Linked DNA regions of Homo sapiens. The protein of the gene in region 2 purifies or fractionates together with the protein of the main gene of each other region. This does not show direct contact. Each region holds a gene or a part of one and is shown on either strand. Other genes may lie near its edges.

What was found.
Region 1: the proteins of SPAST (region 2) and NUP160 purify together in Homo sapiens (affinity purification with mass spectrometry; 3 studies listed by BioGRID and IntAct, with this or other methods). This does not show direct contact.
Region 3: the proteins of SPAST (region 2) and CUL1 purify together in Homo sapiens (affinity purification with western blotting; one study listed by BioGRID and IntAct). This does not show direct contact.
Region 4: the proteins of SPAST (region 2) and SVIL purify together in Homo sapiens (affinity purification with mass spectrometry; one large-scale study listed by BioGRID and IntAct). This does not show direct contact.
Region 5: the proteins of SPAST (region 2) and NUP43 purify together in Homo sapiens (affinity purification with mass spectrometry; 4 studies listed by BioGRID and IntAct, with this or other methods). This does not show direct contact.
Region 6: the proteins of SPAST (region 2) and NUP98 purify together in Homo sapiens (affinity purification with mass spectrometry; 4 studies listed by BioGRID and IntAct, with this or other methods). This does not show direct contact.
Region 7: the proteins of SPAST (region 2) and NUP107 purify together in Homo sapiens (affinity purification with mass spectrometry; 4 studies listed by BioGRID and IntAct, with this or other methods). This does not show direct contact.

Annotation. Positions count from the first base shown.
Region 1 is NC_000011.10:47,841,851-47,845,350, reverse strand, and holds part of NUP160 (nuclear pore complex protein Nup160), read left to right. Parts: intron 1-3,500. UniProt on the Homo sapiens protein: Functions as a component of the nuclear pore complex (NPC). Involved in poly(A)+ RNA transport.
Region 2 is NC_000002.12:32,150,556-32,154,055, reverse strand, and holds part of SPAST (spastin), read right to left. Parts: intron 1-3,500. UniProt on the Homo sapiens protein: ATP-dependent microtubule severing protein that specifically recognizes and cuts microtubules that are polyglutamylated.
Region 3 is NC_000007.14:148,705,403-148,708,902, reverse strand, and holds part of CUL1 (cullin-1), read right to left. Parts: intron 1-3,500. UniProt on the Homo sapiens protein: Core component of multiple cullin-RING-based SCF (SKP1-CUL1-F-box protein) E3 ubiquitin-protein ligase complexes, which mediate the ubiquitination of proteins involved in cell cycle progression, signal transduction and transcription.
Region 4 is NC_000010.11:29,523,472-29,526,971, forward strand, and holds part of SVIL (supervillin), read right to left. Parts: coding exon 3,490-3,500; intron 1,245-3,489; coding exon 1,001-1,244; intron 557-1,000; coding exon 1-556.
Region 5 is NC_000006.12:149,729,530-149,733,029, forward strand, and holds part of NUP43 (nucleoporin Nup43), read right to left. Parts: intron 2,207-3,500; coding exon 2,084-2,206; intron 1,235-2,083; coding exon of another isoform or gene 1,104-1,234; exon of another isoform or gene 1-1,103. UniProt on the Homo sapiens protein: Component of the Nup107-160 subcomplex of the nuclear pore complex (NPC). The Nup107-160 subcomplex is required for the assembly of a functional NPC.
Region 6 is NC_000011.10:3,791,055-3,794,554, forward strand, and holds part of NUP98 (nuclear pore complex protein Nup98-Nup96 isoform 1 precursor), read right to left. Parts: intron 1-3,500. UniProt on the Homo sapiens protein: Plays a role in the nuclear pore complex (NPC) assembly and/or maintenance. NUP98 and NUP96 are involved in the bidirectional transport across the NPC. May anchor NUP153 and TPR to the NPC.
Region 7 is NC_000012.12:68,728,478-68,731,977, reverse strand, and holds part of NUP107 (nuclear pore complex protein Nup107), read right to left. Parts: intron 869-3,500; coding exon 718-868; intron 372-717; coding exon 259-371; intron 1-258. UniProt on the Homo sapiens protein: Plays a role in the nuclear pore complex (NPC) assembly and/or maintenance. Required for the assembly of peripheral proteins into the NPC. May anchor NUP62 to the NPC. Involved in nephrogenesis.

The DNA.
Region 1 (3,500 bases), on a different chromosome or scaffold from region 2:
CTGACCAACATGGTGAAACCGTGTCTCTACTAAAAATACAAAATTAGCTGGGCATGATGGCACATGCCTATAATCCCAGCTACTTGGGAGGCTGAGGCAGGAGAATAGCTTGAACCCAGGAGGTGGAGGGTGCAGTGAGCTGAGATCACACCATTGCACTCCAGCCTGGGCAACAAGAGCAAAACTGCATCTCAAAAAAAAATGTAAATAAAAGAATGGCTACTCCATAGACAGAGTAGCTCCGAGGGCTGCTGGTTGCCCATTTTTATGGTTATTTCTTGATGATATGCTAAACAGGGGTGGATTATTCATGCCCCCACTTTTTAGACTCCTGATGTAACTTCCTGATGTTGCCATGGCATTTGTAAACTGTCATGGCGTTGATGGGAGTGTAGCAGTGAGGACAACTGGAGGTCACCCTTGTCGCCATTTTGGTTTTGGTGGGTTTTGGCTTGCTCCTTTATTGCAACCTGTTTTATCAGCAAGGTCTTTATGACCTGTATTTTGTGCTGACCTCCTATCTCATCCTGTGACTTAGAATGCCTTAACTGTCTGGGAATGCATCCCAGTAGGTTTCAGTCTTGTTTTACCCAACTCCTATTCAAGATGGAGTTGTTCTGGTTCACATGCCTCTGACAGTTTGTCAGTTGATTAATGGAATAGGAAAAAGGGAACAGCATAAGAGGGAAGAGGAATACCTGTGGGAGTTAATGTTTTATGTAGGGTGGTTGGGCAAGAGCCAGGGGTAAGCTGACATTTGAGCAGAAGAAAGGATATCTGGGGAATGAGTATTTCAGGTGGAGCCTTCCAAGAAAAAGGAATAAAAAGTGCAAAGAACCCTGAAACAGGAGCCTGTTGTGTTCAAAGAGTGGAAAGGAGCCAGGAGTCTGCAGCTGAGTGAACAAAGGGTAGAATAATAAGAAAGAGATAGTTGAGGGCCAGATCAGGGCTTTGTTGGTTATTTTAAGCTTTGGCTTTTGCTCTGAGTAAGATGAGAAGAAGCTGTGGAAGGTTAAAGTGGAGGAATGACGTGATCTAAGATCTGGGCTTCTAAAGGATTGCTTTGACTGCTGTCTTGAGAATAGAGCGTGGTGGGGGAAAGGGTAGGTGCAGGGAGACCAGTTAGGAGGCTGGTGCCACAATTCACACATGATGGTGGCTTAGATCAGGGTGGTAGTGACAGAGGCAGTGAGAAATGTTGTGATTGTGGATATGTTTTCAAGGTGAATTTGTTAGAATTACTGTTGCATTGGATGGGGAGTATACAGAAAGAAAAGAGTCACAGGTGAGCCCTAGATTTTTGGCTTGAGCAATTGGAAGTTAGGGAGATGTCATTAATTGCGATGGAAAAACGTATAGGTGAAGCAGGTACTTTTGTTTTCTTCAGGTTCAGTGAGTCCAGGAGTTCTGTTTTGGACAGGTGTAATCTGAGATGCCTGATAGATATCCAAGTGAGTGTTGAGACAGTAGTCAGGAGTTGAGTGGAGAAGTTGGGCTAAAGATACAGATTGTGAAATTGTTGGCATTAGATCGTGCTTAAAGCTGTTCTACTGAATGAGATCACCTAGAAAGTGAGAATAAATTAGGATTTTTCACCTTCTGCACTATTATTGTCAGCTAAGTCTTCATTGTGGAAGGCTGTCCTGTATGCTATAGGGTGTTAAGCAGCATTCCTGGCTTCTACCCTCTGCATAGCAATAGCACATCTATACCGCCACTTCTACCCTAGTTACAATAACCAACAATATCTCTAGATATTGCTTAATATCCTGGTGAATGAGGAAGAATCGCCCCCAGTTGAGAGCCACTTGAGTAGAGCAGTCTGGGACTGAACCCTGGGGCACACCAACATTTAGAAAAATGACGAACCAACAAAGGAGCCCAAGAAGGAGTAACTGAAGTGAGAGTTGAACAAAGAACGTGGCATCCCAGAAGCTAAGGGAAATGTTTCAAGGAGGAGGAGAGTGAAAACCTGTCAGTGTTGCATTTAAGCCAGGCAAGATGAGAAACGAAAATTGGCCTTTGGATCATGGAGGTCATTGATGACCTGGTCAGGAATTGCTGCAGTAGTCGTACAAAAGCCTCAGTGGAGTGGGTTCAAGAGGGAAAGGGAGGAGAGGAATTGTGAGTATAGAATAGCCCTTCCAAGGTGTATTGCTATAAGGGAAGCAGAGAAATCACATGGTAACCAGAGAGCAAGGGAGGAACAGAGAAAATATAATAATATATCTATGTGCAGTTGGGAATGACCTAGTAGATGCAGTTGAGAGCAATCACTAGAGGAAAGGAATTTGGGGAACTGAGAAGGTAGAGTGTTAGGATAATTGGATATTGTTTATTCATTTGTTTGTTTGTTTTTTTTTAGAGTCAGAGTTTCACTCTGTCACCCAGGCTGGAGTAAAATAGCACAGTCATGGCCTACTGCAGCCCGAACTCCTAGGCTCAATCGATCCTCCCATCTCAGCCTCCCAAGTGGCTGAGATTACAGGCGGGCATCACCATGCCTGGCTAATTTTTTTATTTTGTAGAGATAGGGTTTTGCTGTGTTGCCCAGGCTGATCTCGTACTCCTGGGCTGAAGAAATCCTCCTGTCTTGGCCTCCCAAAATGCTGGGATCATAGGCATGAGCTATTGTACCTGGCCCTGATACTGAAATCATTAAGAATTATGGTGAGAGTAGTGTGGGAGAGAGTGACAGTGGGCCAGGAGCTAAAATCAACTGCAGTGAGCATGGGTAGCAGGTGGTATCTGATTCCATGAGCTTCAGAGCTGAGTGATTCGGGTAGCAGAGGAGGAACAGTGGCCTAGAATGCCAGTGGGGAACAAGGACATCTGTATGTTTTCCTTGAGGCCCCACCCCAAAGGGCATGGTAGAGAAAACTCTGGGGTCACTGTCCTCACGGGAGATCCAGGATCCAACTTTAACCGTAAGGCAGGAAAGCGAAGGAATTATTCAGAGATGAGGTTGAGGATCCAGAAAATTGTGCTGATGCCGTGAGTTACCAGAAGCAAAGTAGCTCTGGGAAATCATCAGCGCTGAAAAGGTACTTACATCCTTGGGAGTAGATAAGATGTGCCTTGGGAGAAAGTGTACAGTGAGAGAAGATGGTCCAGGATCAAGGTTTGAGGAAATCTAGCATATAGGGGTCAGGTCAAGGAGAAGGGGAAGAAATGGACAGGAATGTGGGAGGAAAACTGGGAGAGGGTAGTATCATAGGATTCATGAGAAGAGACTGTTTAAAAAGGAAGGCAAGGTCACATATGTGGAATGCTGCTAAGAGATCAAGTAAGAGGGCCAGGCATGGTGGCTAACACCTGTAATCATGTGGAATGCTGCTAAGAGTCAAGTAAGAGGGCCAGGTGTGGTGGCTCACACCTGTAATCCCAGCACTTTGGGAGGCCGAGGCAGGTAGCACTTTGGGAGGCTTGAGGCCAGGAGTTCAAGATCAGCCTGGCCAACATGGTGAAACCCCGTCTCTACTAAAAAATACAAAAATTAG
Region 2 (3,500 bases):
AAGAGAAAAAAAGAATCACAATTTCACCACTCAGATATGCAACCTCCCCCTCCAAGGTTCAAGCAATTCTTCTGTCTCAGCCTCCCGAGTAGCTGGGATTACAGGCACATGCCTCCATGCCCAGCTAATTTTTGTATTTTTAGTAGAGACAGGGTTTCGCCATGATGGCCAGGTTGGTCCTGAACTCCTAACCTCAGGTGATCCGCCCACCTTGGCCTCCCAAAGTGCTGGGATTACAGACGTGAGCCACTTTGCCCAGCCTAAAGTATGCATTTTTATATTAATTTGGTCTTATTTTCTGATCTTTTAAATTGCCTTTGGAAATATAGATTAAAACAATGCTGAGTTAATGAATATCTATATTTACACCTAAGTATTTTTAAAAGGCAAAATGGATAGGTTCACAGAGTCCAGGCAATAGAAAAATTAATAAAAATTTTGGCCAAGCACGGTGGCTCACACCTGTAATCCCCGCACTTTGGGAGGCCAAGGCGGGTGGATCACCTGAGGTCAGCAGTTCGAGACCAGCCTGGCCAACATGGTGAAACCCCGTCTCCACTAAAAATACAAAAATTAGCCAGGCAGGTGCCTGTAATCCCAGCTACTCAGGAGGCTGAGGCAGGAGAATCGCTTGAACCTGGGAGGTGGAGGTTGTAAGTGAGCCGAGATCGTGCCATTGCACTCCAGCTTGGGCAATGAGTGAGACTCCCTCTCAAAAAAAAAAAAAAAAAAAAAAATTAAGGCAAAATGCAGTTTGGCATAAATGACCTGTGTTAAAAATCATTTCTAGCGTATACCTGTATTTTGGCCCAAAAATAAGAAGTTAAAGAACTTTAAACAAAACTCCAACAACTGGTATTTATCCGTATTTTAAAAACTACTCTTAAAAACCCAATCTAACTTCATATCATCTTTGATATCTCCATGAGATATCACCTACACTTGTAACTTGTAAACTAATCTGAAAAATTTTAGCCAAAAAGAAAAAAACATATAGTTAAAATATAGGCTGGCTGCAGTGGCTCGCACCTGTTAATCCCAGAACTTTGGGAGGCTGAAGCAAGTGGATCACTTGAGCCCAGGAGTTAGAGACCAGCCTGGGCAACATGGCAAAGCCTCATCTCTACAAAATGTACAAAATTTAGCTAGGCATGGTGGCGCACGCCTGTAGTCTCAGCTACTAGGGAAGCTGAGGTGGGAGGATCACTTGAGTCTGGGAGGTTGAGGCTGCAGTGAGCCATGAGCATGCCAATGTATTTCAGCCTGGGAGACAGAGTGATACCCTGTCTCAAAAAAAAAAACCCCAAAAACCCAGCAACCCCCCACCAAAGAAAACCCCATAAGCACTATATGAACCCTACTTGTTTCCTATTTAACTGTAACACACACACTGCCTCTTCCTAAAGGCCAAAGTGTAGAAGAATAATGAATGTAACATGGGTATTAAACATGATATTACTAAATAAAATTTATTTGTTATAGAAATTAATATTTTTGTTTTGAGACAGGGTCTCACTGTTACCCAGGCTGGAGTGCAGTGGCATGATCTCGGCTCACTGCAACCTCTGCCTCCCAGGCTTAAGAGATCCTCCCAAGTAGCTAGGACTATAGGTGTGCGCCACCACGCCCAGCTAACTTTTTGTAATTTTTGTAGAGATGAGGATTTCACCATGTTATCCAGGCTGGTCTCGAATTCCTGAGCTCAAGGGATCCAATGGCCTGAGCCTCCCAAAGTGCTGGGATTATAGGCATGAACAACCACGCCTGGCCAGAAATTAAGGTTTTAAAAGATGTTGATGTAATTGTACTTTAAGTCTATAGTTTGATATGTGTATATATATGAAACTTATATGATATTTTAACGTAAGAGACTAATGTATACAACAGGAAAAAGGCAGATGGTAGCTGGTTCAGTTAAGGGGGGAAATAAGTAGAAAAGTTGTCTTATCAAACCAAAATAATAAAGGACTTAAAGTTAAATTAGATACACAAGGTACTTAAAAAACAAAGTATATTGTACCCCAATTTATAACCAACAATTTTAGTACTAACCTTAAAAATACAGAAATTCCAAACCAATTATTTGAACTTCTACTATTATAAACTGTAAAAGATAAGTTGGGTTTTTCTTTTTTTTTTTTTTGGAGATGGAGTCTCGCTCCTGTCGCACAGACTGGAGTGCAGTGGTACGATCTCAGCTCACTGCAACCTCCACCTCCCCAGGTTCAAGCAATTCTCCTTCCTCAGCCTCCCGAGCAGCTGGGATTACAGGCATGTGCCACCACGCCCGGCTAATTTTTGTATTTTTAGTGGAGACGGGGTTTCGCCACGTTGGCCAGGCTGGTCTCGAACTCAAGACCTCAGGTGATCCAACTGCCTCGGCCTCCCAAAGTGGTAGGATTACAGGCGTGAGCCACTGTGTGCGACCAAGTTGGGTTTTCCTTACCTAAATTTATATATATTCACCGGTAACTGACAATACACTTTGGTATTAAAGTTGCATCAAATAATGGGTATATAAAATTCTAGTATACAGTTTTAGAGAGCAAACTACTTGTGTTTACGTCTCATCCCATAAATGGAAATGAGAGAATGGATTACCTTAATCTCTATAATAAAATGCCACTATCAGTTTTATATTTTTTAAAGTTATTTAATGGATCTTTACATAGTGTTTACTACGTGCCAGCTACTTTAAGTGCTTTATAAATATTAACTCATAAGTAAGCAATAACAGCTAAAGGTCATTATCAAATTATTAATACCAAAACCACTAGATTAAAAAGAAACAACTGAATGAAAGTATATAGTAGAGCCAGGCATGGTGGCTCACACCTGCAATCCCAGCACTTTGGGAGGCCGAGGTGGGCGGATCTCCTGAGGTTGGGAGTTCCAGATCAGCCTGACCAACATAGTGAAACCCCGTCTCTACAAAAACACAAAATTAGCCAGGCATAGTGGCGCATGCCTGTAATCCCAGCTACTCAGGAGGCTGAGGCAGGAGAATCACTTGAACCCAGGAGGCGGAGGTTGCAGTGAGCCGAGATTGCACCATTGCACTCCAGCCTGGGCAACAACAGCGAAACTCAGTCTCAAAAAAAAAAGTATACAGTAGAACCAAATATTGTAACAATATAACCTGAATATATATAATTAATGGGATGCTCACAAAAGGGACCAGTAATATTCTTCCTTGTAAATCACTCAGTAGTTTTATTAAGCTTTAATTTTTAGTTTTACCATCTAAATTTTTAATAAATAATGTTATGACTTTTAAAAAATGGTGGATAAAATTATATTTTTAGGTGTGGGATTAAAAATTTCAAGTCTGGCACGGTGTCACACCTGTAATCCCAGCATTTTGGGAGGTGCAAGTGGGAGGAATGCTTGAGGAATCTGAGACCAGCCTAGGCAACATAGTGAGACCCCATCTCTACAAAAAATTAAAAATTTAGCTGAGTGTGGTGGTACATGCCCGTAGTCCCAGCAACTCAAAAGGC
Region 3 (3,500 bases), on a different chromosome or scaffold from region 2:
ATTCCAACATTTATAATTTATTATGGCAAAACCTCAAAGTTAACACAACTTCCGCAAATTGGTTGCTTTGTTGAAATTTTGCTAAATGTTGTTACTAGAAATCACATTCCCAGTTTGAAGAGCTGAGATAGAGACAAATACCCAGAACCAACATCCAGCTACTTTCAAGTGAAAATTGCAGCAGAGCCAGTTTTTTTAAAAAGCATGTTAGCATGATACACACAGCTAGATTTTCAGGATTTTTTTAAGCTTATGAAGATGAGATAGGATGGTTGTGGCAAAGGGCTGCAAAGACAAAGAGCAGAGCCCACTCTATCAAATGCTAGCAGCCCAATACCTGCCCTGGAGAGCCTCTGTAATCAAGGAAGCCAGGCAAGTCCTGAATGAAGCAGCAATCAGCAGCGCACTGCATCGCCAGGCGTGAGGGCAGAATGAAGCTGGTGACAGCGGGGCCAAAGAGGAAGGTATAAACACATAGTGTTATGGGGGAGGAACTAGTAAGATTTGGTAGATCACTGAATATGGACAAACAAAAGAAGTCAAGTCTGAAATCTGTGTCTCTGACACAACGCTAGAAATAGAGATGTCGGATATGGTCTAGGGAGCAAAAAAGAGATCAGTTTGGGGCAAGCCAAGTTGGAAGAAAGGCCAGGTTAGTCAAATGCAAAAGCCCTGAAGGCTATTAGCAGGACTGCAAGGCTCTCAGCTGAAGTTGCTGAGAATTGCTTAACCTGAAAAAACTGAGAAACCACAAAGCAAAAAAGACTAGAAGAGAGGATCAAGTTAAAGCTATCTCCTGAATGCTCATGAAGAGTTAGAAAAGATAAGATGAACTGGAACAGCAAGTATTCTGCACAGAACCCTAACCTCAGGAGGTCACCCAAGAAAAAAGAAAGGTAACCTGGTCCACAAGTCTGGGAAATGAGCGATGTGGCCCCTACTCAGAAGGGGACACTGGAGAACAGACCTGGTGATGCTTCCTAAACTCCTCTAACGCAAGACATCCTGAGAACAGCGTTCACCCTCTGGAAACCATGAATTGGAAATGCAAGAGAACCAATCTAATGAATCAAGTACAAATCTAAGAGTGCCTTCAAGAGAAGTATTGAGATGCTTTTAAAACCCAGGAAGTTTTAGATTTTTAAAGAAAAAATGTGAAACAACTTTGTAGTTAAACCATTATTTTACAGGTTTAAAAAGTGTTCTCCATGGACACCGGGAAGGGCACAACACTCACTGGGGCCTGTCAGGGAAGGTGTGGGGACCAACACCAGGGAAAACAGCTAATGTATGCAGGGCTTAATACCTAGGTGATGGGTTGATCGGTGCAGCAAACCACCATGGCACACGTTTACCTATGTAACGAACCTGTGGTACCCTGAAACTTAAAAAAAAAATTATTATTTAAAAAAATAAAAAGTGATCTCAACATGACACCACCAATAACATGTAAATGACACAGGCTTTGATTGTGTTGTCTCCCATATGCTTTAAAATTTTTTTAATATAATTCCTCTGATAGTATTTAGGATTTAAACAAGGACTAGGGTGAAGCAAAAATTATTTCTAGACACTAAACTTATAACCATACTCATTAGGATCCTGGCCTCTATGGCACTTCCCACACTGTGCTACAAAGAACCACGAATATTTCCAGGTGCTCGTTCCAAGAGAAAAAAATGAACACATCAATTCACTCCATATCAAATCTCTACTGTAAAGACCTAATTTTCCACATTCGATGATTTTAAAATCAGTATGTGTTCTACAAAACATGTTAATATGGTAGGGGAGTTTTCTTCCTTCAAAGGTAATTTCTTATTAAATTAGGAGTGGACCTTTTAATATATATGAATGTAGGTATGTATACATATATACATACCCTATAAGATATATCTCCCTGTAACAGCAGCAAAACAAATTAAGATTTTAAAGGCCCTTCAATATGCCACCTGGCATTTCCTACGTTTATTCACAGATCTTCCCTCCTATTCCCATACCTTACATATCACAGAACACAGACAGCCAAATATTGGCCTAAATAAAAATCCTGAAAATGCAGTAAAACAAGTAGAGTAGTAAGGCAGAGCTCCATTATAAAAATACCAGTGACCAAAACAAACAAAATCTTCATAATGTCGAGAGAACACATACAGTACGTTTCACCTGTAAAGCCCCAGCTAAACTGCAGACATTAAACACCCACCCCGCCCCCCGCCGCCCCCACCCCCAACACACATACCCTGTATAGGGCAAAGTCCCCTATATATAGAACATGTAACAAAGGCACTACTGAAGAGCCAATTTCAGTATGTGTCTTCAGCATTCCTAACCCTTCTTCCCTTTGTGTGTTTTGAGTCCCTTGTTGGTAGGACCTACTCTACACAGATGCCCAAGTAGCCTTTCATCAACACATCAAATAGGAGACCCTCTCATTTCAGTAGTCTCTACTTTATGATTGATGTAATATATTCCCATGCTGTGTGTCAAAGTCCATCCTCAACCAGGACTGCATTAGACAGCCTTCTGTCCCATTTGAGGTATCTCCAAGCAGCAGAAAGCTGAGGGCAAGCAGCTAGGGAGTCACAAAGCAAGCTCGGCACAGTCTTTGGCTCATACCAAGCACTGAACACAAATTGAGTATCCTTTATCTGAAATGCTTGGGTCCAGAAGTCTTTTGAATTTCAGACTGTTTCATATTTTGGAATATTTGAGGTATCTTGCGGATGGGATCCAAATCTAAACGGGGAATTCACATGTTTCATATAGACCTTATACACACAGCCTGAAGGTAATTTTACTTTCCCCTTGGGGACACTGAATAAACTGTTGTGCACCTGCATGTTGACCGTGGCCCATCACATGAGGTCGGGGTGAAATGATCCACTTGTCACATCGTGTTGGTAACTAAGGAAGTTTTAGATTCTGGAGGATTTAGGATTTTCAAATTAGGGATGCTCAACCTAGACTAAGGGTTATTATTGCATGTAAGATAAAATGGCAAGCAAACGTTTTAAAGATTTTACGTATTTAAAATGAGAGAAGTCAGAAGAATCAGTCTGGAATTTTTCTTCTCCACCATCCCCCACACCAAAGTCTCCAAGTTCCTATAGATAAGCTTGAAGTTTGGGGAGGGGGAAATGGCCTAGTCTTCATGTCTATTCCCTGAATTCCACTTGGGATCAAAGAGTCTGGTTTATTGACATCATCTAGGATTCCAAACCTTTCCTTCCAGTCTCACCAAAGCCTCCTTCCTGCCTTGAGAAAAGGAGGTCTGAGCTGTCAGCCTTTTTCCCCCGTTCTGACTTTCGGATGCCTATTAGGCACACGTAACTATTTTAGTTAGCATTTAATTAATTTCGACATAGCAAAGGTGCCCCCTCCCAGCATTAGGTGACACGTTTCTGTGCAACGGTTTTCTCATAATTACAACAGTATTCCTCATTTGTACTATTTAGCATACACTTCTTAAATAATTGATGGTAGCCTCTGAATTTTCC
Region 4 (3,500 bases), on a different chromosome or scaffold from region 2:
TCATAACATTCTCCACCTCCACCTTCTCTTCAAAGGGCAGCCTGTCCCTCAAGTCCAAGTTTCCTTGTGCATTCATTTTAGCCATGGAAAATTCCTTCGGTTCATCCCCGAGGTGGGTGATGGGAGGGTTCGCCCGTTCCAGGCTTCCTCTTCTGGGAACAGCATATTTAGATTCCTTATGGCTGTCTCCTTCCCTGGCTCGGTTCAGGATGGGGTAGGATGCTTCTGCTTCCTCAAAGGACCCATACTTCTCCATCCCACTGTCTCGACCTGTCAAAGCTCTCTTGCTTTCTGTCTCTCCATATTCTCTCAACATTCCCTTGTTCTCGCTACCCTCTACCAAAGGCTGCCAAGCTTGCGATTTCAGAATGCTTCTAACTGGAGAGTCCGAATTTTCTATTGAAGAAGAAAACTTATAGTCAGTGGCACTTGCATTGTGGTCAAGAGGTGGCTTTGTGCGAAGATCTCCGGCATACATTGGAGCAACCGTGGATGCTACGGTAGACACTGATGTGTTCACGGCAGGTGAGAAAGGAATGAGCTTTCCACTCTGCACCTGGAAGGACACAGTTAAAAATTAAAAAGCTGCTTGAAAAATATCATCTATATAAATCCTGGTTTATGAATTGACAGAAGCTGAAATACTCGATTTGATGCAGTTTCACTGTTTCTCTTAGTGGAAAACCATTCCTGGACATAGTTATATAATACGTCTCATTAAACAAAATCCTCTGGGTGAAACACAGTTGGGCATACTATTTTTTTCTCTCCAAAATGGACTCATTCTAGATATTTCAGCAAGCAAGGTATGAAAACAAAAAAAGAGCAACATACTTGGTAGAATTCTCATTTTTAGGAAGAAAGCTATTACCAAATCACCTACAGGTAGCAGTTTCCTGGTAGAGCACCTTAATTACATCATTGACCTCAGAGGAATACTGCAGTGCTATAATTTAAGAACACACACACACAAACTGCAATCGGACTATAGCACACCCACCTGCTCCACCTCTCCCAGTGTGACTGGCTGAGTTTGATAGCGAGCGTTCATTCTCCTCTGTCTCGTGTCTATTCTGTTCCGGGTAGAAATCGCTTTTGAGACTGGCTGGGACAATTTGTTAAACAAGGCCAACTTTTCGGCCAAGCTTAGAGTGGAGGAATCAGGTTCTCCTTGCTCAGCAAGCTCTTTGCCCTCATTTGTCTGGTCCTTGGCTAAGGCCTTTTGGTGAGCAGAGGCCTGCAATCTGAAAAAAATAAAATGTCAGCAACACATATACCAACAAACAAAAGCACACCGCTAAGTTTCTACGTTAACTTTCTGCCAAGTGTCACATCATTTTGCAAAGGGCTTCTTTTTCCCTAAGCACGTCTAGGACAGAGGCAGGCAGCTGTTCAGCTACTCAACAAGCAGAGTCGGCACAGGACACTTAGCATCATCACTTCTACAAAGAGCAGACTTTGAGCTCCGAATTATTTCTACAAAACGAATTTCCTGTTTAAGACATTGAAGTCAGCTTGGCTATACCTTATCTTAGACAGAGAGGCGGCATTGTTAGTATCGTAATAAGTAGAATGAAAGGGAGTCACAAAGTATTACCTACGGTGTATTTAGACCTTATCTAAAGATATGGTTCAGAAGGTGGTCTTTCATTTTAAATAATTAGGAAACGATATAGTCCTCTGTCAACAACATAACAGAAGGTCTTGATTTTTACTTGCTAAAGACAAATGGCTTAATTTTTAAAGAGTCACTGCTTCAGCTTAGCATTTACTCTCATAGGTTCCTACCAGTTTTCTAAAAGGTACTTAAATCTGCAATTTCCAGTAACCAGAGGAGTAAAGAAAATTTCAGGTGATTATAAATCCCTCCAACTGGCCAGGTCTGGTGGCTCATATCTATGGAAGGCCAAGGCAAGAGGATCACTTGAATTTAGGAGTTGGAGACTAGCCTGGGCAACATCGTGAAACCCCATCTCTACAAAAAATATAAAAATTAGCCAGGCTTGGTGGTGTGCACCTGTGATCCCAGCTACTCAGGAGGCTGAGGTGGGAGGATCGCTTGAGCCTGTGAGGTAGAGGCTGCAGTGTGCAGTGATGAAGCCTGGGCGACAGAGCAAGACTCTGTCTCAAAAATAAATGAATGAATACATAAATCAGTAAATAAATAAATAGCTCCCTCCAACTTCCAGCTAGAAGAGAAGGAAAGCCTGAAGTCTTCACGGTCAATATGAATCTCTAGGGGTTTGTAATGCACTATATCTTCTGTCCCTGACCGATCCAATTGTCAGATCTAGTAAAGGAGATATTCTGCCTTGATTCTAGTGAATCCCCAATGCACAGGCTATCCCAGGCCAAAGAGTAGCCAGCTTCCATATTCCAGGTGTATAATGAGGCCAGTGACAAAAAAGCCACCTGAGCCTCAGAGTCCTCCGTGGACCTCGTGCAGTAACCAGGAGGGCAGGGAAACCCACTTCTCCGGGAGGGCCCTGCTGTGGGTGTACCAGCTTTATCCCGGCACTGCCATTATTTTTAGCTTTTGCGGTTTGGCTCATATAACAGTAAAATGAAGGGATATGACCTGATGTGAGGACATAATTTTAAAGCACCACAATCTGAAACACGACAGTAAAACATCTACGTTTAGACACTACAAATTGTTATTTTCCCAGTCCCAAAATATAATGGCATTGACTCTATAAATTAGAAAGAGGGAGGATTGTTTTCAGTCTGTATTTGTGTCTACAGGTGTTTGAAAAAGACTGGGTCTTATCAGCATTTCAACATTCAGGTTAATGTCTCATTTTTCTTTTTTTTTCTTTCTTTTTTTCTCTTTCTTTTTTTTTTTTTTTTTTGAGACAGAGTCTTGCTCTGTCACCAGGCGGGAGTGCAGTGGCACGATCTTGACTCACTGCAACCTCTGCCTCCCAGGTTCAAGCGATTCTCCTGCCTCAGTCTCCCAAGTAGCTAGGATTACTGGCACATGCCACCATGCCCAGCTAATTTTTGTATTTTTAGTAGAGACAGGGTTTCACCATGTTGGCCAGGACGGTCTCAATCTCCTGACCTCGTGATCCACCTGCCTTGGCCTCTCAAAGTGCTGGGATTACAGGCATGAGCCACCGCGCCTGGCCAATGTCCCATTTTTCTATTAATCTTTATTAAGTGCTATAACAGTATTTAGATGAAGAACAAAATTTTTGAGGGATGACCATTATTATGAAAAACAAACAAAGCAACTGGATACGTGAGTTAGTGTGATCCTAGTTCTAACACATAACATATGCAGAGAGACAAAATGTTTTCCCACGCACGCCAGCATGTGGTTATCAGCACCTTGTGCTATGACAAAACAAAATGCCACGCATTCTGGAACAACTCACGGCATTGACTTGTTTGTCAAACAAACGACAGACATTCAAGACTTTAGGATGCATCTGCTGTTCGGCACCTTTGCACCGGGTGCCGCATGCATCTGTATCTGTCCAGTACCTGGCAGGCTG
Region 5 (3,500 bases), on a different chromosome or scaffold from region 2:
CAAACTTTTACAGCATTTTCAACAGTCAAGTAGCAGGGGTACTAACAATTACTATTTCTGGGTTTTCCCTTTTCTTCCTATTTGTTCTCCCAGCACCCCTCCTATTACCTTTTGTTTTCCCAGCCCTTCTAACACATGTGAGACCAATTCCTTCTACATCTAAGGTAGTTTCTGACATTCTAATTGGACTCTTACTGATACATTATCTATTTTTTTAACTATTAGAATATTTGCTCTATGCGTTTCGACATTTCGTTCTGCTCACTGTTACACGTCCTAACACCTAGAAGAATGCCTACCACATGGTAGGCATTCAGTAAATATTTCTGAATAAATGAATAAGCAAAAGAACTTTGGAGCCACAGACAAACCCTCAAAAACAGGAAACTTGGAAAATGCAAAAACACATAAACCCCGATTACAAGTGCATGGTCTTTGGCTGACCATAACCTACAACTGACTGTAATGAGGAAAGCACGCCCTTTTTTTTTTTTTTTGAGACGGAGTTTCGCTTTTGCTATCCAGGCTGGAGTGCAATGGTGCAATCTCGGCTCGCTGAAACCTCTGTCTCCTGGGTAAAAGCAATTCTCCTGCCTCAGCCTCCTGAATAGCTAGGATTACAGGCATGAGCCACCACACCCGGCTAATTTTGTATTTTTAGTAGAGACGGGGTTTCTCCATGTTGGTCAGGCTGGTCTCGAACTCCCAAACTCAGGTGATCCACCTGCCTTGGCCTCCCAAAGTGCTGGGATTACAGGCATGAGCCACCACACCCGGCCTGAGATCAGGCCATTTAACCAGTACCCTCAGTTACATCAAATATCAACTTTTTTCTTGCCATTCACACAAACTTGGCAATGCAATATGAAAGATTTGCCACTGTCTATGCTATGGCATGAGGGTCCAGGTTAATGGCACTCACAAAGGAGAACCTTGGCTGTCTCAAGTGAGCCAGCTTACAGCATTTCTAGCCATCAGCCATACAGTAGTAAGTAACTTGACAGTCAGATTTCAAGCCCTGTGATACTCAAATTTACTCTGAGGCAAGAGAATAAAAATGTTTTGCCATTAAGTAAAAAATACGAGGATGTCTAATTTGGTATTTAAAAGTATAAAATGGCTGGGTACAGCCAGCTCATGCTTATAATTGCAATACCTCGGGAGGCCCAGGCAGGAAGATTGCTTGAGCTCAGGAGTTTGAGAGCAGCCTGGGCAGCATAGTGAGAGCTCATCTCTACAAAAAAATTAAAAAAAAAAAATTAGCTGGTTGTGGTTGCAAGCATCTCTGGTCTTAGCTATTTGGGAGGCTGGGGCAGGAGGACCACTTAAGCCCAGGAGGGCGAGGATGTAGCGAGCTGTGATCATGCCACTGCAGTCCAGCCTGCATGTCAGAGTGAGACGCTGTCTCAAACAAAAAAAAAACAAAATAAAAGTATGATAAAATTACACATAACAGGCTGGGCACAGTGGCTCATGCCTGTAATCCCAGCACTTTGGGGAGGCTGAGGTGGTCAGATCACTTGAGGCCAGGAGTTTGAGACCAGCCTGGCCAACATAGCAAAACCCCATCTCTACTAAAAATACAAAAAAATTAGCCAGTTGTGGTGGCACACACCTGTAATCCCAGCTACTAGGGAAGCTAAGGCACAAGAAAAGCTTGAACCTGAGAGGCAGAGGTTGCAGTGAGCTGAGACTGCACCACTACACTCCATTCTGGGTGACTGAGTAAGACTCTGTCTCAAAAAAAAGGCCAGGTGTGGTGGCTCACTCCTGTAATCTCAGCACTTTGGGAGGCTGAGGCAGGCGGATCATTTGAGGTCAGGAGTTCGAGACCAGCCTGGCCAACATGGTGAAACCCCATCTCCACTAAAAATACAAAAAAATTAGCCGGGCACGGTGGTGCATGACTAGTAGTCCTGGCTACTCGGGAGGCTGAGGCACGAGAATCGCTTGAACCCAGGAGGCGGAGGTTGCAGTGAGCTGAGATCGTGCCACTGCATTCCAGCCTGGGTGATAGAGTGAGACTCTGTCTTAAAAAAAAAAAAAAAAAGTACACATAACAGTATTCATTAAAAAGTTTTACCTTGGTGAAAGAGTGACGACTTTTCAGGTACATCTGTGGAAGCATCCCAGTGCCAGAGGGATCCATCTTCAGAGCAGGTAAAAAGATGTTCTGGGTTGGATGGGTGAAAGTGAACTTCCCACACTAAGAGACAAGAATCAATAAGCTCATTCCTGTGCAGATTCGCTGAACAAACAACATTAAACCCCCATCTCTAGGCATCATCTTCCATTATCCTCCATCACATACCTTCGAGCCTCAAGTCTGTCCTAAAAATTAAAGGCTTCAGAATTAAAGAAAAGACATAATGTAACTTTCCAATGGCTATAACACATAGAAAGGAAAAAGAACACTTTAGGAGGCTAAGGCGGGTGGATCACCTGAGGTCAGGACCAGCCTGGGCAACATGGTGAAACACCATCTCTACTAAAAATACAAAAGTTAGCCAGGCGTGGTGGCGCGTGCTTGTAGTCCCAGCTACTTAGGAGGCTGAGACAGGAAAATCACTTGAACCTGGGAGGCGGAGGTTGCAGTGAGCCGAGCTCGCACCACTGCACTCCAGCCTGGGCGACAAAGTGAGACACTGTCTGAGAAAAAAAAAAAAAAAAGAAAAGAAAGGAAAAAGAAGCCAACTAAATTTGCGTACTGGGCAAGGAAATAAATGAAAATAGTAGCCAGGCACAGTGGCTCATGCTTGTAATCCTAACACTTTGGGAGGCCAAGGTGGGTGGATCACTTGAGGTCAGGAGTTCAAGACCAGCCTGGCCAACGTGGTGAAACTCCGTCTCTACTAAAAATACTAAAAATTAGCCAGGCATGGTGGTGGGTGCCTATAATCCCAGCTACTCAGGAGGCTGAGGCAGGAGAATCGCTTGAACCCGGGAGGCAGAGGTTGCAATGAGCCAACATCACACCATTGCACTCCAGTCTGGGCAACAAGAGTGAGACTCTGTCTCAAGGAAAAAAAAAAATGTCCAGGCGCAGTGGCTCATGCCTGTAATCCTACCACTTTGGGAGGCCGAGGTGAGTGGATCACCTGAGATCTGGAGTTCAAGACCAGCTAACCAACATGGTGAAACCCCATCTCTACCAAAAATACAAAAAATTAGCCCGGCGTGGTGGCAGGTGCCTGTAATCCCAGCTACTTGGGAGGGTGAGGTAGGAGAATTGCTTGAACCCGGGAGGCAAGGTTGCAGTGAGCTGAGATTGCATCACTGCACTCCAGCCTGGGCAAAAAGAGCAAAACTACGTCTCAAAAAAAAGAAAAGAAAATCATTGCTAAAACATTTAACCCTATTACTTTATGAAAAAGCTTATTTTATTTTATTTTTATTTTTTTAAATAGAGACAGGGTTTTGCTATGTTGTCTACCTTGGTCTTCTACTCCTGGCGTCAAGCAATCCTCCTGCCTCAGCCTCCCAAAAGTGCTGGAATTATA
Region 6 (3,500 bases), on a different chromosome or scaffold from region 2:
CCAGCTAATTTTTTGTATTTTTAGTAGAGACGGGTTTTCACCGTGTTAGCCAGGATGGTCTCGATCTCCTGACCTTGTGATCCGCCCCCCTCAGCCTCCCAAAGTGCTGGGATTACAGGCGTGAGCCACTGCGCCCCGCCCACCATTTTAATTTCAAAGAATGATTGACAAACTATGGTTATTAAGATTTGGTACTGGCTGGGCATGGTGGCTCACACCTGTAATCCTAGCAGTTTGGGAGGCCGAGGCAGGTGGATCACTTGAAGTCAGCAGTTCAAAACCAGCCTGGCCAACATGGTGAAACCTCATCTCTACTAAAAATACAAAAAATTAGCCAGGCATGGTGGTGGACGCCTGTAATCCCAGCTACTTGGGAGGCGGAGACAGGAGAATCAGTGGAACCCAGAAGGCGGAGGTTGCAGTGAGTTGAGATCCCACCATTGTACTCCAGCCTGGGGGAAAGACCGAGACCTCGTCTCAAAAAAAAAAAAAAAAAAAAAAAAAGAAAGGCTGGGCATGGTGGCTCATGCCTATAATCCCAGCATTTCGGGAGACCGAGGCAGACAGATCACGAGGTCAGGAGTTGAAGACCAGCCTGACCAACATGATGAAACCCTGTCTCTGCTAAAAATACAAAAATTAGCCATGTGTGGTGGCACCTGCCTGTAATCCCAGCTACTCAGGAGGCTGAGGCAGGAGAATTGCTTGAACCCAGGAGGCGAGGTTACAGTGAGCCGAGATCACGACACTGCACTCCAGCCTAGGCGACAGAGTGAGACTACATCTAAAAAAAAAAAAAAAAAAATTTTGATACAAAAATTACAACTACAAAAACATGCATTCGGCTGGGCGCAGCGGCTCATGCCTGTAATCCCAGGACTTTGGGAGGCGGAGGTGAGCGGATCACGAGGTCAGGAGATCGAGACCTTCCTGGCTAACACGGTGAAACCCCATCTCTACTAAAAATACAAAAAATTAGCCGGGCATGGTGGCACGCCCCTGTATTCCCAGCTACTCGGGAGGATGAGGCAGGAGAATGGCGTGAACCCGGGAAGTGGAGCTTGCAATAAGCCGAGATCGTGCCACTGCACTCCAGCCCAGGTGACAGAGTGAAACTCCATCTCAAAAAAAAAAAAAAAAAAAAAAAAAAAAAAACATGTATTCACCACTATCAGGTCATAAGCTTCTCAATTCTTAAAAAGACTTATCTGATGAGATGGGTGGAAACAGAAACAACTGTATAATTAAATTTGTCAACATCTGGAATATCTGGGCCAGGCCTATGGGGCTCATGCCTGTAATGCCAGCTCTTTAGGAGGCCGAGACGGGAAGATCACTTGATGTCAGGAGTTCCAGACCAGCCATGGTCAACATGTTGAAACCCCGTCTCTACAAAAAATACAAAAATTAGCCAGATGTGGTGGTACACACCTGTAGTCCCAGCTACTCAGGAGGCTGAGGCATGAGAATCACCTGAACCCGGAATGCAGAGGTTACAGTGAGCCAAGATTGTGCCACAACACTCCAGCCTGGGTGACAAAGCAAGACTCTGTCTCAAAAACAAAGAAACAAACAAACAAAAAAACAACAAAAAAAGAAGATCTGCATAACTCAGTAAATCAATAATTTCAAAATCAACATGCATCATGTTATAAAATCACAGAAGTGTAAAGGTCTATTCAAAGTACAACACAGACCAATGGTTTTTAATACAACAGAATACAAAAGTTCAATGACACAGTTTCAGATTCCATACTGTAATGAACCTTTAAAAAGGTTTGAGGCCGGGCACGGTGGCTCACGTCTGAAATCCCAGCACTTTGGGAGGCCAAGGCAGGCGGATCACTTGAGGCCAGGAGTTCAAACCCAACATGGCGAAACCCCGTCTCTACTAAAAATACAAAAAATTAGCCCAGCGTGGTGATGTGCACCTGTAGTCCCAGCAACTCAGGAGGCTGAGGCAGGAGAATTGCTTGAACCTGGGAGGCGGAGGTTGGAGTACGCTGAGATAGCGCCACTGCACTCCGACTTGGGCGACAGAGCACGACTCCGTCTCAAAAAAACAAACAAATAAAAAGGTTTGACTGTAGTGTCAAAGAGCAGTTAGAATTATCTGAAAAGGCCATTAAAATACTCCTCTCTTTTCCAACTATGTATCTGTATGAGGCTAGATTTTCTTCACATACTTCAAACAAAACAACATAATATATGTCAGAATGCAAAGACTGGTACATTTAGAGGTCTTCTTTTTATGATATGGAGTCTTGCTCTGTCACCCAGGATGAAGCACAGTGGTGCAATCTGCGCTCACTGCAACCTCTGCCTCCTGGGTTCAAGCGATTCTCTGCCTCAGCCTCCCAGTAGCTGGGACTACAGGTGCGTGTCACTGTGCCCAACTAATTTTTCTATTTTTAGTAGATTCAGGGTTTCACCATATTAGCCAGGATGGTCTCAAACTCCTAACCTTGTGATCCACCCGCTTCAGCCTCCCAAAGTGCTGGATTACAGGTGTGAGCCACCACACCCGGCCAGCTACCACTATATTTTTAAGAATTTTTCTTTCCTTACTAAAAAAAACTGCAAGTATTTCCCATTACACTGAATTAAGTACAAATTCCTCAATGTGGTAATTATGGCTGGGCATGGTGGCTCACGCCTGTAATCCCAGCACTTTGGGAGGCCAAAGCGGGTGGATTGCTTGAGGTCACGAGTTCCAGATCAGCCTGGCCAACATGGTGAAAGCCTGTCTCTACTAAAAATACAAAATTAGCTGGGTGTGGTGGCACGCACCTGTAATCCAGCTACTCGGGAGGCTGAGGCAAGAGAATTGCTTGAACCCACGAGGCGGAGGTTGCGGTGAGCCAAGATCACATCATTGCACTCCAGCCGGGGCAACAAGAGCGAAACTCTGTCTCAAAAAATAAATAAATAAATAAATACATGTGAAATATTTTCACTAAAGTAGTAGTCTCAATCAAGGGCAATTCTGACAATTTCTTCAGACATTCCTGATCGTTACAACCTGCAGAGGATGTGTTATGGGTATCTAATGGGTAGAGGTAGGAATGTTGCTAAATATCCTACAATATACAACAGAGCCCCCACGATAATTATCTGGCCCAAAGTCTCAAAGTTCCAAAGCTGAGAAACCTTTCTCTAGAGCCATACTGTGCCAAATACTTACGGTCAATTTCAAACAAAAAGAATGCACCAAGTTCTCAGGAAATGTTTACCTACCTTGCCTCTAATACATACTGTTTTGTTTTGTTTCTTTTCTTTTTTTCTTGAGTCAGAGTCTCGCTGTCGCCCAGGCTGGAGTGCAGTGGCACAATCTTGGCTCACTGCAACCTCCGCCTCCCGAGTTCAAGCAATTCTCCTCCCTCAGCCTCCCGAGTAGCTGGGGCAATGGGCGCATGCTGCCACGCCCAGCTAATTTTTCATATTTTTTTTTAAGTACAGATGGGGTTTCACCATGTTGCCCAGGCTGGTCTCAAACTCCT
Region 7 (3,500 bases), on a different chromosome or scaffold from region 2:
TAATCAAGTATTTAAAATAACCTGATGAGCAACAAGCCAAAGCTGAGATTTTTTTCTATTAAAGAAGCTCCTTTAACATACTACTATAAGTAATCCTTTACATAAGACTTTAAATTTAAAAGGTCTGGGCTGACAAAGACACATTCTTAAAAAAGAAAACCTAATAGAACTTCTTTTACGAAGGGAGAAGTTCACCAAGGAATAACATAAAAGATTATTAGAAGTTATAGAAACCTCTGCCCCCCCATCCCAAATTACCTCAGTAGTGCCAGTATCTAGGGCTGGGGCCAGGTCATGATGACTAAATTCACCATTATCTTTCTTTCGAATATTCTCAACTACAGTTTTTGTTATTGTTGCAACATCCAAATCTAAATAATTTTTTGAAGCGACAAAAAACAAAGATTAATCATTGATACTAATATTCTCTAAATAGTCATAATGATTCAGTAAATTTGGAACAGTAATTCCTTAAAAATAAAATATGTAAAATATGAAAGATATTTATATAAAAGAAAATGCCAGAATTAAAAGATATTTTACATATGAGTTACAGCATAAGTAACTTTAGTCCTAAAACAGAAATTCCCTGAAAATTTTATTCCTCTTTTCCCCTCAACAGAAATAAGATTTAAAACTATAAGGACAAATGTTACTACAGCCAAAATGAACATTTGCCTAGAAAGGCCAAAAGACAAAGTTTTCAACCATTTTTACCTGCTTCTTTAGCCAACTCCAGGCAATGGTGGCGCTGTTCAAATTCTGTAACACTTTCCAAAAATAATGCATACTGGGCAACAGCTAGGTCTTGAGGCAAATGACAGGTATAAAATGCTATAAGATTTGTATGTTTCTCTCTTATTAAAAGCTAAAAAATAGAAAAAGATCAAAGTATGTCAATAATAAAATTAAAAGTATACTTCAAAATTTCAAATGTATTCAGGAGAGGTTCATACAGATGTGGATTTGTGTTGCTAAACAGAATAATTTTATTTTATATTTATTTGTTTGAGACAGGGTCTCACTCTGTCACCCAGGTTAGGGTACAGTGGCATGATCATGGCTCACTGCAACCTGTCTCCTGGGCTCAGGTGATCCTCCCACCTCAACCTCCCGGGTAGGTGGGACTACAGGCACATGCCACTATGCCCTGCTAATTTTTTGTATTTTTTTTTAGTAGAGATGGCTTTTCACTATGCTGCCCAGGCTGGTCTCAAACTCCTGGGCTCAAGTGATCTGCCCACCTTGGCCTCCTAAAGTGCTGGGATTACAGGCATGGGCCCCTGTGTCCAGCCCAGAATAATTTTAAATTCCAAAAAGTGAGTACAGTTGGCTCTTAAACTGCACAGGTTTGAACCGTGGATTTTTTTCGATAAATATATTGGAAAATTGGCTGGGTATGGTGGCTTGCGCCTGTAATTCCAGTACTTTGGGAGGCTGAGGCAGAAGTATCACTTGAGACCAGGCCTGGTAGCTCTTGCCTATAATCCCAGCACTCTGGGAGGCTGAGGCAGGCGGATCACCTAAGGCCAGGAGTTCAAGACCAGCCTGGCCAACAAGACAAAACCCTGTCTCTACTAAAAATACAAAAATTAGCCAGGCGTGGTGGCGCATGCCTGTAATCTCAGCTACTTGGGAGGCTGAGGCAGGAGAATCACTTGAACTTGGGAGGTGGGTTGCAGTGAGCTGAGATCATTCCACCACACTCCACATTCCGGCCTGGGTGACAGTGAGACTCTCTCAAAAAAAAAAAAAAAAAAAAAGGTAGTATCACCCCTGAGGGCAGGAGTTTGAGATTAGCCTGGCCAACATAGTGAGACCCAGTCTCTACAAAAAAATAAAAAATAAGTTTGCTGGCCATGGTGGCACGTGTCTATAGTACCAGCTACTTGGGAGGTTGAGGGGAGAAGACTGTTTGAGCCCAGGAGTCTGAGGTTACAATGGGCTATGATCTAGCCAGTGAACTCTAGCCTGAGTGACAGAACAACATCCTATCTCTAAATAAATAAATACATTAATTTAAATATATATATATTAGAACATTTTTTGGAGATTTGTGACAATTTGAAAAATATTCATGCTTGAACCCAAGAGGCAGAGGGTACAGTACAGTGAGCTGAGATTGCGCCATTGCACTCCAGCCTGGGCGAGAGAGTGAGACTCCGTCTCAAAAAAAAAAAAAAGACTCACAAACAAATTAATAGCCTAGAAATACTGAGTAAATTAAGAAAAAGCTAGGTAGGCCAGTGGCTCACACCTGTAATCCTAGCACTTTGGAAGGCCGAGGCTGCTGGATCACCTGAGGTCAGGAATTTGAGACCAGCCTGGCCAACGTGGTGAAACCCCGTCTCTACTAAAAATACAAAATTAGCCAGGCGTGGTGGTGCACACCTGTAATACCAGCTACTTGGGAGGCTGAGGCCAGAGAATCGCTTGACCCCGGTGAGGCAGAGGCTGCAGTGGCAGTGAGCCAAGATCATGCCACTACACTCCAGCCCGGGCATCAAAGTGAGACTCCATCTCAAAAAAAAAAATAAAAAATAAAAAAAAAGGTATGTCATAAATCCATTATATGTAGATTCTGGTCTATTTTATCACTTACTACTATAAAATATATATGAATCTATTATAAAAAGTTAAAATTTATCAAAACGTACACACATTTACAGACCATACATTGTGGTCTAGAGAAATGTAAACAAGCATACAGATGCAGTATTAAATCATAACTGCATACAACTAACTGTAGTAGATACTATACTACTGTAATAACTTTAGAGCCACTTCCTGCCACTACTGGGGTGAGCTCAAGTGCTGTGAGTATCCATTTAAAATGCCGTGTGATGCTAATCATCTCTGAAGAGCTGTTGGTCTCTTCAGTTGCATACTGCAATAAAAAGTAAGCTTTCCCAGGTCTTGTTTTTTTTAGTGCAATACTATAAACCCTTAATAACACCACAGGAGCCATACAAAGTGCCAGTAGTGATACTGGAAGTTCTCCCAAGAAGCAGAGAAAAGTCATGAGATTACAAGAAAAAGGTGAATTGCTTGATATACTGTAGATTGAGGTCTGTAACTGTGGTTGTCCATTTCAAATAGACAATTCATCTTGTAAACAGACAACATAAACTTACAGTATTAACAGGTACAGTATAGTACTATAAACGTAGTTTCTCTTCCTTATGATTTTTATTATTTATTCTTTTTTTAACTTTTAAAAGTTATTTATTAATTTTTAAACTTAAAAAAAAAAAAAAAGACAGGTCCAGGCCGGGTGTCGTGGTTCACGCCTGTAATCCCAGCTCTTTGGGAGACTGAGGGGGGTGGATCATGAGGTCAGGCGTTAAAGATCAGCCTGGCCAACATAGCAAAACCCCATCTCTACTAAAAATACAGACAATTAGCCAGCACCTTTAATCCCAGCTACTCGGGAGGCTGAGGCAGGAGAACCGCTTGAACCTGGGAGGCGGAGGCTGCAGTAAGCCGAGATGGTGCCACTG